Linked DNA regions of Homo sapiens: all the other regions are linked to region 3. Evidence: fine-mapped expression QTL. A gene starts in region 3. Each other region holds a variant in brackets. All regions are shown on one strand. Distances are between the middles of the regions.

The links. PIP is the estimated chance that this variant, and not a neighbour inherited with it, causes the effect.
Region 1: its variant is fine-mapped to the expression of C1RL in whole blood (INTERVAL, PIP above 0.99).
Region 2: its variant is fine-mapped to the expression of C1RL in whole blood (TOPMed, PIP above 0.99).

Annotation. Positions count from the first base shown.
Region 1 is chr12:7,128,162-7,132,308 of GRCh38, reverse strand. RBP5 (retinol binding protein 5) reads left to right here and starts at 3,420. Exons shown (of 4, transcript NM_031491.4): 1 at 3,420-3,606; 2 at 3,891-4,069. The coding sequence starts at 3,534. CLSTN3 (calsyntenin 3) reads right to left here and starts at 1,938. Exons shown (of 18, transcript NM_014718.4): 1 at 1,597-1,938. The coding sequence starts at 1,660. RefSeq lists silencers at 922-991, 2,082-2,181 and an enhancer at 1,139-1,640. The variant C/T (reference allele first, on the strand shown) is at 2,441.
Region 2 is chr12:7,008,546-7,012,545 of GRCh38, reverse strand. All of the region lies in intron 1 of LPCAT3 (lysophosphatidylcholine acyltransferase 3), which reads left to right. Among named protein-coding and RNA genes, the nearest start is that of LPCAT3, 7.9 kb to the left of the region's middle. The variant A/C (reference allele first, on the strand shown) is at 1,778.
Region 3 is chr12:7,107,386-7,111,532 of GRCh38, reverse strand. C1RL (complement C1r subcomponent like) reads left to right here and starts at 2,319. Exons shown (of 6, transcript NM_016546.4): 1 at 2,319-2,423; 2 at 3,054-3,282. The coding sequence starts at 2,353. It overlaps C1RL-AS1 (C1RL antisense RNA 1), which reads right to left and starts at 3,225. Exons shown (of 12, transcript NR_026947.1): 1 at 3,052-3,225; 2 at 2,586-2,860; 3 at 1,386-1,469; 4 at 961-1,235; 5 at 1-508. RefSeq lists enhancers at 2,378-2,457, 3,098-3,267, 2,100-3,299.

The DNA.
Region 1 (4,147 bases), 21 kb before region 3:
GCTTCCCACCCCCACACCCAAGAGAACACATTCGAAACCGACACATTTCTATGTCCTCCACAAGACCATCAAACCACATTCCCTGAAACCCACTTTTTATACAGAACTCAATCCCAGTTCTTATCTACCCCATCCCTCTTCCCTTCAACCACCAGCCAATTCAGAATGGATGCGGGACTCATCAGACTCCAAATCTCCCCATCTTCTACCAGATTCAGCCTGGTGAGGGGCTGTGGGGAAGCATATTTCCTCCCCTTCCACATCACCCCCCACCCCAGCCTCCACGCTTGCTCTAATCCCATCATCATGCCAACACCCAGGCTCCCAAAGCACAATCATGAGGCAGAGGGAAACTGAGTCACCAAAAGGAACCTCATCCCCAGTATCTCACGGTGAGCAAGAAACCCTGATTTCCATTCTTTCCTCCAACCACACACCAGCAAGCCTTTGGCATGGGAAGGCTTTCTTACTGATGACCACCATAACCCCTTCCTGAATGCTGAGGAGAAAGCCACAAGATGGTGCACAGGAGGCGGTACAGGAAGTGGCAGGAGGCTAGGAGGCGAGGCTGAGGTCAGAGATGCAGGCAAGGAAGAGAGAGCGGTGGAAGGGCAGGGCTGGGCGCCCTCTGCACAGCTCCCCCTCCCACCCTGCTTGTCTTCCCAGGTCTCTGAGCCTCTGTCTCCTCTCCTCCTGGCCCCCTGCGGTCTCTGCGTTTGCTCCCTTTCACTCCTAGGCTCCCGGGCTCCTCCTTGACTCACTCTTTTCCTGATTTTCCTCATTCCTCCCTCTTTTTTCTGCCTCCACCTTTACCCTTTTCCATCCCCTCCTTACCCCCTCCCACGCCTCATCTCCGGTCTTCTCCTTCTCAGCTTTCCCTCTCATACTCATTTAGCGCCCCCCACACACCCACTTCTGCCCTTTCCTGCCAGTCTCCATCCGTTTCCACCTACCTGAGCCCTCTGCCCGCAAGCCCTCCCTCCCGTCCTCCCTCTCCGTCTGTCCGACAGCCCCGCCCAGCTGAATGTATCCGCTGTCTGCCAGAGAGGGCAGCTCTGGTAACCCACAGCCCAGCTGATGCAGGCAAAAGGGTCTGAATGCAGAGGCACACGCAAAAAACATACGTGCTCCGAATTGCTGAACTGCAGCAAATACTTTCTCCCCAGGATGGGATGGAGGCGAAGCAGATGGATCTGCCACACACCCTTAGCATGCGCCAGTGAAAGGGAGAGCCGCGGGGAGAGGCCTATCACCGGCTCGGGGGCAGTCCTTCCCAGACCCGAGGTAGCCACCAGCGTGTAGAAATTAGGGGAAGGGGAGAATAGAGACCCCAGGACGGGAATGGAGACCAAATGGGAGCAAGATGACCAGCAAGAGAAACGCATGGGTAGAGATGGACCAGAAAGGAAGATGTAGCTGGGGGAAGAGAAAGAGAGGAGACGGAGCAGGTCTGAGAACGGATGGGAAGGAGGGTGATCAGAAGAGGGCCAGACACCTGTCAGGTGCCAGGGAGCCTCGACACCTCCTTCCCACCCCCACCCCGCACGGCGCTGCCCGACGCCCCTCTTTCGGTACCCCCACCCCCACCTCACTCACCTTTGTTACAGGAGCAGGACGCGAGCAGAGAGGCCAGCAGAAGGGGCAGCAGCAGGAGGGTCATGGTGCGGCGTGGGGCAGGGCAGGGCCAGGCGTTTGCCTCCCCTGGGAGCCTCCAGCCTGCGGATTCCACCTTGCGGGAGGGATACAGGGGGTCTCCAAGGAGCGGGGTACAGCAGGGCAGGGACGGAAAGGAGCCTGCCGCCCACACTAGTCCATAAAGCGGGCCTGGGCAGATCCCAATCTGGGTAGCTGAGGCGGTGGACTTGCAGCGGCTTCCCGTTTCCCCCAGCCCAGCGTCCTCACTCTCTCACTCCCACCCCAACCCCGCTACTGCAGGATGACGTCAGCACAGCCGGGCAACGATTGATGGGGCCGCCGGCCAATCAGGTGACTGGGAGGGGGGGGGACCAGGTGCTGCAGCGGGGGAGGGAGCCAATGAGACTGGGGCGTCGGGGCTGGAGAGTTTCAAGGCTCCTTCCCCTGGCTGCAATTTTGGGGGAGCCGAGGAACTGCGGGGGCTGGGGAGGAAGCTGGAGAGCCACGGAGGGGGTGGGAAAGAAGAGGGACGTGGGGAGAAAGAAGCCAGAAGCCAGGGGGTGGGGAAGAGAGACGTCAGCGGGACCTGAGGGCGGCCAGGAGGGGTGGCACCGCGTCACCCCGCCCCCCAACTCTGCCATAACCTGTTTCCACAGCCCCTTCCATCCACAGATCCGTGCTGCGTGCCCTCTGGGAAGGGTGAAGTAAAACCCTCAGTCTGAGCCTGAGAAATCCTGGCATTTGTAGCCCAGGGCTGCGAGGAAGCCACAGGGCGGTCCGCAGGGCGGTATCGAGGCTCTGGGAC[C/T]CAAGGAGGGGCAGGACGTCGTGCACCCCTCGCGCACGCACCTGTCGGGACCGGCCGCCTCCTCCTGCCTACCTGTCCTGCCTCCTTCGCCCCGAATTTCACCTTAAACCATGATGAACCAAGCCCAGTGGATTCTGAAGCCCGGGACGATGGCAGGTTCGAGAGAGAATTGGGCAGCTGGGGGCGGGGCACAATATTATTTAGGCGCCTCCACCCCACCTTCACAGAAATACATCTGGAAAGCATGGGCTGTCCTAGGGCTGGGGACTGGGGGTTACGGTCTCATCGATGACTCAGAGGGAGAGAAAACCCCCTGGGTCCCAAGCCAAAAAGAATAAAATTCTCCAGAATAGCCAACAAACTCCTCTCAGGCTGTCTGTTCCGGACTTTGAACTCAGCACCCCTCGGGCTCCACCTCCCTCCTAATGGCTCTTTAGGACCAAGAGTCTGGAATGCCACTTTGGGGTCCCAGTTGAGCACACTACCTGAGGGAGCTCTGAGAGCCAGGCCTACAGGGTGCTCTTCATGGTGGCAGCTGGCCATCCTCACCCCCTCCCCTCACATCTTCCAACATCACTCAGTCCCAGGATCTCAGGATATTGTTGGAACTCATCTCCACCTCACACAGCCAGACCAGCCTCAGGTGTCTCCCAGGAAAGACTGCCCCTCAGGCCCTGGGACGGTTCCCAAGCCTGCCAGAAATGAGGTGGAGGCCAACACTGACCTTTGGATGGCTGAGTTTTGGATGACTGACAGCCCCAGATCCTGCTCCAGGTTCCTTCCTCAGGAAGGATCCTGCTCCAGGTTCCTTCCTCAGGAAAAGCCAAGGTCAGGCGCAACTTTGCCAAATCCCTGCCCCTCCTTCAGGCTGGAGACACCACCCCCAAACTCACCATGCGGGGAGGGAAGAAGTCTGGTAGGGACTCTTATTGCAACAGGGCCCCAGCCTTATAAAAAGCCCTGGTAACCCGGCCATTACACATCCTGTCTCTGTGTGTGGAGCTGGCTGGAATCTCTCAGCCTCACCTGCCAGACAACACCCCCTCCTTCCTCACCCTGTCTCCTGCATTCTCCTGAAACCTTCATCCACACAATGCCTCCCAACCTCACTGGCTACTACCGCTTTGTCTCGCAGAAGAACATGGAGGACTACCTGCAAGCCCTAAGTAATGGCCTCGCCCTCCCAGACCCCTGTCACTCCCTTTCTCCCCTCTTCCTTCCTGCTTCTTGGTCCCATGGAGAAGAGGGAATGCCCGGGGTTGGACACTGTGGAAAGGCTCAGGCGGCTGGCACCAGACCTGGGATCCATTTCTAACCAGGCATTGGTAGGAGGGGGTGAATCCACAGTCCCAGACCCAAAGAAGGGAAACTCACAGCCCTGAGGGGCTGCTGCAGGCAGAGGAGCTCCTGGCTGGCTAGCAGCACCCCTACTAACAGGCAGCCCCCACAGACATCAGCTTGGCTGTGCGGAAGATCGCGCTGCTGCTGAAGCCGGACAAGGAGATCGAACACCAGGGCAACCACATGACGGTGAGGACGCTCAGCACCTTCCGAAACTACACTGTGCAGTTTGATGTGGGAGTGGAGTTTGAGGAGGACCTCAGGAGCGTGGACGGACGAAAATGCCAGGTACATTTCCCCTGGCTGGGCGGTGGCCGGAAGGAGGCATCACAGGAGACTCCTAACAACATGGGGCAAAACAAAGTG
Region 2 (4,000 bases), 99 kb after region 3:
AATAGCTGGCATTTATTAAGGATTTTCTGTGTACCAGACATTGTCCTAAATGGTCAACAGGCAGTTCCCCACCTAAACCTGCCAGTTACCCGTGAGGTAATTATAGTGCTGTTAAGATCTCCTGGTACAGATAGGAAAGTCAGCCCTACAAAGATTGAGTAAGTCACACTGAGTTCTGCCTGACTCCAGAGTTCCTGCTCTTTACCGCTGAGATTGGGAGGAGCATGTGGGGCTGGAAAAGATAAATGCCCTTGGTGTCCTTTTCTCTTTTCACTCTCAGTGGTTAAACCAAGATGCAATCAGTATATGAGCCACCTCTCAGTGTCCAAAGCTAGAGCTGGCCAAATGGAGCAGATGGCCACCCTGCTTACTGTGAGTGTTCCCTAGTCTTGGCCATGATGGTGGCTTGGCTGTTAGACTGATCAAAAATTGCAGCTGGGGGTAACAATTCATCCCTCAGAGGTTCAGAATTAGCATCACTAAAGTTAGCGACCTTTAAAATCAAAGGAGGTCCTGCAGTTTAGTTCCCTTTGGACCAAAGTCAGGTCTGGCCCTTCAGAAAAAAATCCATTATTCAGTGCAGAAAGCTTTCTTCAGGTAGCACTGGAATCACAATATAAAGAGACCAAAGGTAAGCTAGATGAAAATTAAGCAGCATTAATGAAACAAAGAGACTTCTGACCATAATACAAAGCAGGGTCCAAAAATTCTACTGCTATAAAATAGGGAGACTGTCCTAAATGACTTTCAAGGACCCTTCCAATTTTAAAAGTCTAGGTATATTACTTCTACATGTTTAGACTTTATTCTAGTTCATAGCCACAAATTTCATCATAATCTAAACCTTCCCGTTTGGGAATTTCTTTTTCTTTCTTTCTTTTTTTTTTTTTTTTTTTTTGAGACATGGTGTTACTCTGTCATTCAGGCTGGAGTGCAGTGGTGCAATCTCAGCTCACTGCAACGTCTGCTTCCCAGATCAAGCAATTCTCTAGCCTCAGCCTCCTGAGTAGCTGGAACTACAGGCGTGAGCCACCATGCCTGGCTAATTTTTTCTGTATTTTTTGTAGAAACAGGGTTTTACCGTGTTGCCCAGGGTGGTCTCAAACTCCTGAGCTCAAGCAATCCACCAGCCTCAGCCTCCCAAAGTGCTGAGATTACAGGCATAAGCCATTGCCCCTGGCCAAGAATTTCTTTTAAATACAATTTTCCAGGTCAGGCACGGTGGCTTACGCCTGTAACCCCAGCACTTTGGGAGGCCAAAGCAAGAGGATCACTTGAGTCCGGGAGTTCAAGACCAGCCTGGGCAACATAGTGATACCTCATCTCTACAAAAAGTGAACAAAATTAACTGGGCTGGGTGGCATATGTCTGTAGTCCCTGCTGCTTGGGAGGCTGAGGTGGAAGGATCACTGGAGCCCGGGGTCCTCCGCTCAACTCAGGACGTTGAGGCTGCATTGAGCCAAGATCATACCTCTACACTCCAGCATGGGCAAAAGAGCAAGATTCTGTCTCAAAAATAAATAAATAAATTTTGTTTTTAATTAGCCAGGCATGATGGCATGCACCTGTAGTCCCAGCTATTCAGGAGACCAAGGTGGGAGGATCATTTGAGCCCAGGAATTTGAGACTGCAGTGAACTATGATGATGCCACTGCATTCCAACCTAGATGACAGAAGGAGACCTCATCTCTAAAAATAAATATATATATTTTTTCCAACCACTTTTTATCTATACCCCAATGTCTTACATTCCATAAAACATCATGTTTTGAATTCC[A/C]GTATAACTTTATCGTTAAACATGTTTCTTTGCAGAAGCATGTATAAGTTAGGGTCCACAAGATTATTTGCATAAGCTAATTTACAAAAAAAATTATATAATCACTGACATGAAAGCATGTCTGGGCAGCCATGGGAGCTCATATGAGGCGTCCAGTTCAGTCGCCTTTTAAAAATGATATTTGCATTAGCTGGGCATGGTAGCATGTGTCTGTAGTCCCAGCTACTCAGGGGACTGAAGTGAGAGGATGCACCAGAGCCCCAGAAGTCAAGGCTGCAGTGAGCCATGATCACATCACTGCACCAGCCTGGGCAACAGGAGTGAGGCCTTGTCTCAGTCAGTCAATCAATCAATCAATAATGGTATTTGGTCTTCTGAAAGAAAGTGACATTTTAGCTGGGCCTTAAAGGGGATGGTAAGATTCTAGTAAAGTAGAGATGAAAGCGGAGGAGCTTTCCAGCTACAAAGAGTAATCTGGAGATCAGGAAGAGTAAGACCCTGTCTGTCCCTGAATCTAAGGAAAAAGAAAAAAAAATTTTGAGAAAAATCTGAGGAACAGCAAGTAGTCCTCTTTAACCAGAACAATAGAAGATCGTAAAAGAGCAGTAGAGAAAAACATGATAGGCCTTTTATGTAGGTGGAGGTCAATGACAGAGTAAGGTAGTAACATGTGCATTGTCTTTAGAGATCTTCTGGCCTAGGTTCAAATGCTGGATCAAATAAATATGTACTAGCTGTTTCACCATAAGCTCATTACCAGAGTTCAACCACCCATTTCTTTATATTCCCACAGGCCAATTTTACTAAAGAATTGCAATGAAGAGTTAAGCAATTTATCTGATAAATATTTTTAGATTTATATTTCATTCATAACTAGCAGCAGTATTTTGAAACAGAATACAAAATTTATATGAATTTTTAAAGTAATACAGTCATCAAAGAAATTTTCTATTTCTAGAAGACTGCTTAGGCATACTCTTTTGTGATGTGTTCATTCTCCTTTGGCCTGGAAAAGTTTGAGAACTGTTGCTCATTGGGATGTTGTAAGGACTAAATAAGATAAACTATGTAAACACTTAACCATGCTTGACCCAAGATCATCTTAAATAATTGTTCTTCCCTTCCCTGTCAATAAATATTTATTTTCTCCCTTTCCAAGGAGACACAAAGTATGGTCTTGTGACCAACAGCATCTGTATCTTATGGGAGCCTGTTAGAAATGCAGATTCTTTGGTCTACTCCAAAACTACTGATTGAGAAACTCTGAGGATAGTGCCCAGTAATCTGTTCTAGCAAGCCAGGTTATACTTATTACTCTAGAGTTTGAGGATTACTAATTTAGCATATTTCTTCCGGTGCCTATTTTGTAGTACTTGATGTCCTGATAGTACCTTTTTGGAATGTCATTGGCCAGGCGCGGTGGCTCACGCCTGTAATCCCAGCACTTTGGGAGGCCGAGGCAGGCAGATCACCTGAGGTCAGGAGTTGGAGACTAGCCTGGCCAACATGGTGAAACCCATTTCTATTAAAAAGATAAAAATTAGCTGGGCATGGTGGCACATGCCTGTAGTCCCAGCTACTTGGGAAGCTGAGACAGGATAATCGCTGGAACCCAGGAGGCAGAGGTTGTAGTGAGCCGAGATTGCACCATGGCACTCCAGCCTGGGTGACAGAAAAAAAAAGAAAGGTCATTGTATCCTGTACTCTTTGGAATAAACAAAACTCTTAGATTCCTTATGGTTTAGTTTTTCCCATTTGTAGGCCTGACAGATAGGAAAGTTGGGCCTACAAAAATTGAGTAACTTGCTTAAAGTCACATTCAGTTCTGCCTGACTCCAGAGTTCCTGCTCTGGATGTTATCTGAGGAATAAAGAGATGTTGTTGTTATTATGTTCACATTGTTATTATGTTCACATTGTTATTATGTTCATTATCATGATCATCACATACACCATCTGTTTCACACTTTTGATAAGAAGGTTAGATACAGAGGAGTTGTGTTTTTTGTTTTTTTTTTGAGATGGAGTCTCACTTTGTTGCCCAGGCTGGAGTGCAGAGGTACAATCTCAGCTCACTGCAACCTCCACCTCCGAGGTTCCAGCAATTCTCCTGCCTCAGCCTCCGGAGTAGCTGGGATTACAGGCGTGAGCCACCACACCCAGAGGAGGAATTTTTTTAATAAGGTTATTGGACTAATGGCTCCATCTTTTTTGTGTTGCATCA
Region 3 (4,147 bases):
ACCCAAGCTGGAGTGCAGTGGCACCGTCATGGCTCACTGCAGCCTCCATCTTCCGAGCTCAAGCAATCCTCCCACCTTGGCCTCCCAAAATGCTGGGATTATAGGCGTGAGCTATCGTGCCCGTCCTAAAGAACTTTCTTTAGCGCTTCTCATAGTGGAGGTCTGCTGGCGACAAGAATCTCTGTTTTCTTTTATCTGAAAATAGCTTTATTTCATCTTCATTCTGGAAGAATACTTTCACTAGAAAAACAATTCTGAGTTGACTTTTTTTTTCCTTCAGCATTTTAGAGATATTCCACTGTCTTCTGGTCTATATTGGTTTTGATGAGAAAAGAGTGACATTGAAAATATTGTTCTGTCTAGTCTTTAGGATGGGATTAAAAAAAAGAAAAGATTTTCTCTTGTCTTTGGCTTTTAGCAGTTTGACCATGATGTGCCAAGGCATGCCCTTTTTTTCATTGACCACTCTGCCAGTTAGAGACGAGGTCCCAGTGTAGGGGAGGTGGTGCTGAAAACACAGCGGGGCACAGCTCAGCCCTAGCCCACAGGGGCCTGCAGTGACCAGCTATGCACAGAGCCATCAGCTCCTTCTCCAGTCTCACATCACCAGCCATTCCTCCCCTTGCCCTTGACCCTAACTCATGCTGCAGCCGCACACGCCACCTAGGTGAGACCAAGGTGGGCCCTCATCTTCAGAGTGCTGGATTACCCCAAACAGGGACCACATCCAGACCCTGGACTGCCCAGTCACCTGGGGCTGCCGGTGCATCACTGCCTCCCCACCCTCTTGGCTCCCTGTCCTCTTTCTCACCCAGCCTCACTCCAGCACTTTAACCCCTATCCATTTAGGGTGACCACCAGTCCTGGCTTGCCCAGAACTTCCCTCATTTTAAAACGGAAAGCCTCATGTCCTGGGAAACCCGTCGGTCCCACGCAAATCAGAACAGTCGGTCACCCTACCTGTCCTGGAGTTTCCTTCCAAGGCCTTACTCCTCCCTCCTCCAGCTCATCTCCAGGAAAGTCTTCTCAGATGGGCTAGCCTGAGTTTTCCAGTTCCTGCCCCTCTTAGCAAACAAGGAAATAATGCTCTGAAGGGAAACGAGGGGTGGACTCCCCAATCCTGATCTGAGTCTTGGCTGGTTTCTTCTTAACACATGGGTCTTGGGATTGGTACCATTGTTCACTCTTTGGCTGCATCTCTGGCTCCCAAGGTGCTCCAGGTGACCCTAAGAGTTCTATGAGAGAGCAGGTTTCAGTGGTCTCAGGGGAGGAAAGAAGTCCTAGTCAGAGAGGCCCACTCCTCGAAGATGGGTATGGGAGATCATCCCCAGTTGTGTTTGGGGTTGGGGTGTGGCAGACAGGTAGGCTTGATCTCAAGACTGTACCTGAGACATTGCATCTGTCCTGGCCATCACTCTCTTATCATCTCCTTGTAGCCATAGACTGTGGCTCTCCTAAATCTCTCTAGCCTAGAAAAACCAAAGATGCAGAGCACACCCTGTTTGGGTCTGTAACTTGCCTCCATATTACTATATGCAAAATGGGGGAAGCAATAGATTCTTCTCTGAGAGGTGTGTGTGCGCGCGCACATGCATTTGTGTGTGCATACAACGTAAGGCCTTCCACACACCTGCCTTCTCTGAGGATGGGACCACCCATCTCCATAAGAGCCTTCTGGCCTCCTACCAAGCTGTGGGTGAGTGTCCTTCCTCGGGGAGCGGTGAGAGCAGGCAGGGGCTCTAGTATCTGCCTAAAGAAGCTTGAGTGACGGCTTGAGTGATGACTGGGACTAGGGACTGAGGGACACCTGGGCTCGACCCCAGCCCTGACCATGCTGGACAAGCAGCCTCCAGAGGTTGTGAATAGGATTCAAAAGACCACCTAAGCGCATGTCCCCCACCCCTGCTTGGGGAGGAGGGAAAGGAAGAGAAAGCTCAAGTTCAAGGATCACAAACTTCAATTCTACAAGAGGGAGGCTCCCCGGGTATGTCGTGAACGGAAAGGTCGGGGAGGAAGAGACATGGCTGATTGAAGGCAGCAGCCATAACTCACAAGGAGCCATCCTACACACATGGCAAAAATTAATGTTAAATAGTACAAAAGGGTCGAGTCAGTGCCCTGCCACCCTGACCTCTGAGGGCCAGCGAGGTTTTTGGACGTTTCTCCCCTAAGCTGCGGCGGGCCCGCTGTTCCTGAGTCAGACGGCAGGTGGCGCTCAGCCCGGAGAATTGGAGAAGGGGAACTGTGGAGTTGCTTAACATTTCCAGGAACTTCCTCCTCCCCCACCGGCCTTCACCTTTTGTTCCCTATCCTGGGCCAGTTCTCTCGCAGGTCCCAGATGTCCAGTTCCAGATGCCTGGACCCAGAGTGTGGGGGAAATATCTCTGGAGAAGCCCTCACTCCAAAGGCTGTCCAGGCGCAATGTGAGTGTGGCCCCGGCAGAGGAGGAGGGAAGAGGACGGGAGGGGAAGAGAAAGGGTGGGTGGCCGCAAACCCTCCCTCCCCCCACCCTACCCCCCCCACACACACATCCCCCCCCCCCCCACACACACACACACACACACACCTCCCCCACATACACACACCAGCAGCAGCAGCAGCAGCAGCACAGCAGATATTCCATGGGGAGACTGAAATTTGCCTGTGGCCTCTAGCACCTTCCCAGAGGGTGGTCGGGGGATATTTACGGCAGACCCTCACTCGCCCCACCATTGCTCCCTCGGATCCCAGGGTGGGGTGGGATCTGCTGAAGCAGAAAGCACCCCCCTCCTTTGGACGAGACTCTCCTGGGAGATGAGCAAAGGTGATGTCTTCGGAGGATGGAAAACCCACAATCCTAGAGCTCAGGCTGCGCGGGAGGCTGTAGGGATTGGGGTGAGGAAGGGGAGCAAGGGAGGAGACGGGAAGTGCCCGGGCCTCAAGGGTGAGGCCACAGCTTCTAGCCCTGCCTCGCGAGGCCTCTGAGTCCTAGCGCGGCTCCCCCGCTCCTCCCACACCCACAGGCTTCCGGCCATAGCTGCGCGGCCCCACCTTGCCCTCCCCCCAACTCACAGGTGGTGGCTGCTTCTCTGGGGAGTCCTCCAGGCTTGCCCAACCCGGGGCTCCGTCCTCTTGGCCCAAGAGCTACCCCAGCAGCTGACATCCCCCGGGTACCCAGAGCCGTATGGCAAAGGCCAAGAGAGCAGCACGGACATCAAGGCTCCAGAGGGCTTTGCTGTGAGGCTCGTCTTCCAGGACTTCGACCTGGAGCCGTCCCAGGACTGTGCAGGGGACTCTGTCACAGTGAGCTGGGGATGGGGGGGGTCCCGCCAGGACTGTGGCCAGGGAGATTCCCGGGGTTGTGGGAAGTGGCGGTGCCCTGAATCCCCCATCTGGAGGAGGGATGAATTTTCCATGTAGGGGCAGTCGGGCTTGGCTTACCGGGGAGCAGTGGTGGACCCCAGGACACAGCCTCCCACCAGCGCCTCCGGGGCTGCCATCTGGGCCCCACAGAGCAAAGAGGGCAGCAAGCAGGCCCTGCGTTTGGAAGGCTTATGAATGGACACACAAATCTTGCAAATCTATGGAGCCAGGGGCAGGGACGCACATATTGGTTGTTAAAAATATGTCATCATGTATTTGTTGAGTGCCTGCTCTATCAGGTGAGGAAGCTGGACACAAATAATAACAAAAGATTAAGTCACCGTTCACACTTACCTTGGAAGAGCTATTACAAAACTTCTAACGCCAAAGCCTTATTCAGAATAAGGACATTTTAAAAACAGTACTTGATGGAGTGATGCAAGCTTGCAGTCCCAGCAGTATAGTCAGGAGACTGAGGCTGGAGGATCAGAGGGCTGGAGCCCAGGGTTCAAGGCCAGCCTAAGCAACATAGCAAGACCCCATCTCAAAAATAAGTAAATAATAAATAAAAATAAAAAGAGCACATTATCTTTTGATTTAAATTTTATTTATATCAAAATGACATAAATTTTTGAACTTTATTTTTTAATTTTAAAATTTTTAATTATTATGGATACATAATAGTTGTAAGACTTTTTGTTTTTTAATTAAAGTTTTCTAAGGCTGGGCGCAGTAGCTCATGTCTGTAGTCCCAGCACTTTGGGAGGCTGAGGCGAAAGAAGCACTTGAGCCCAGGAATTTGAGA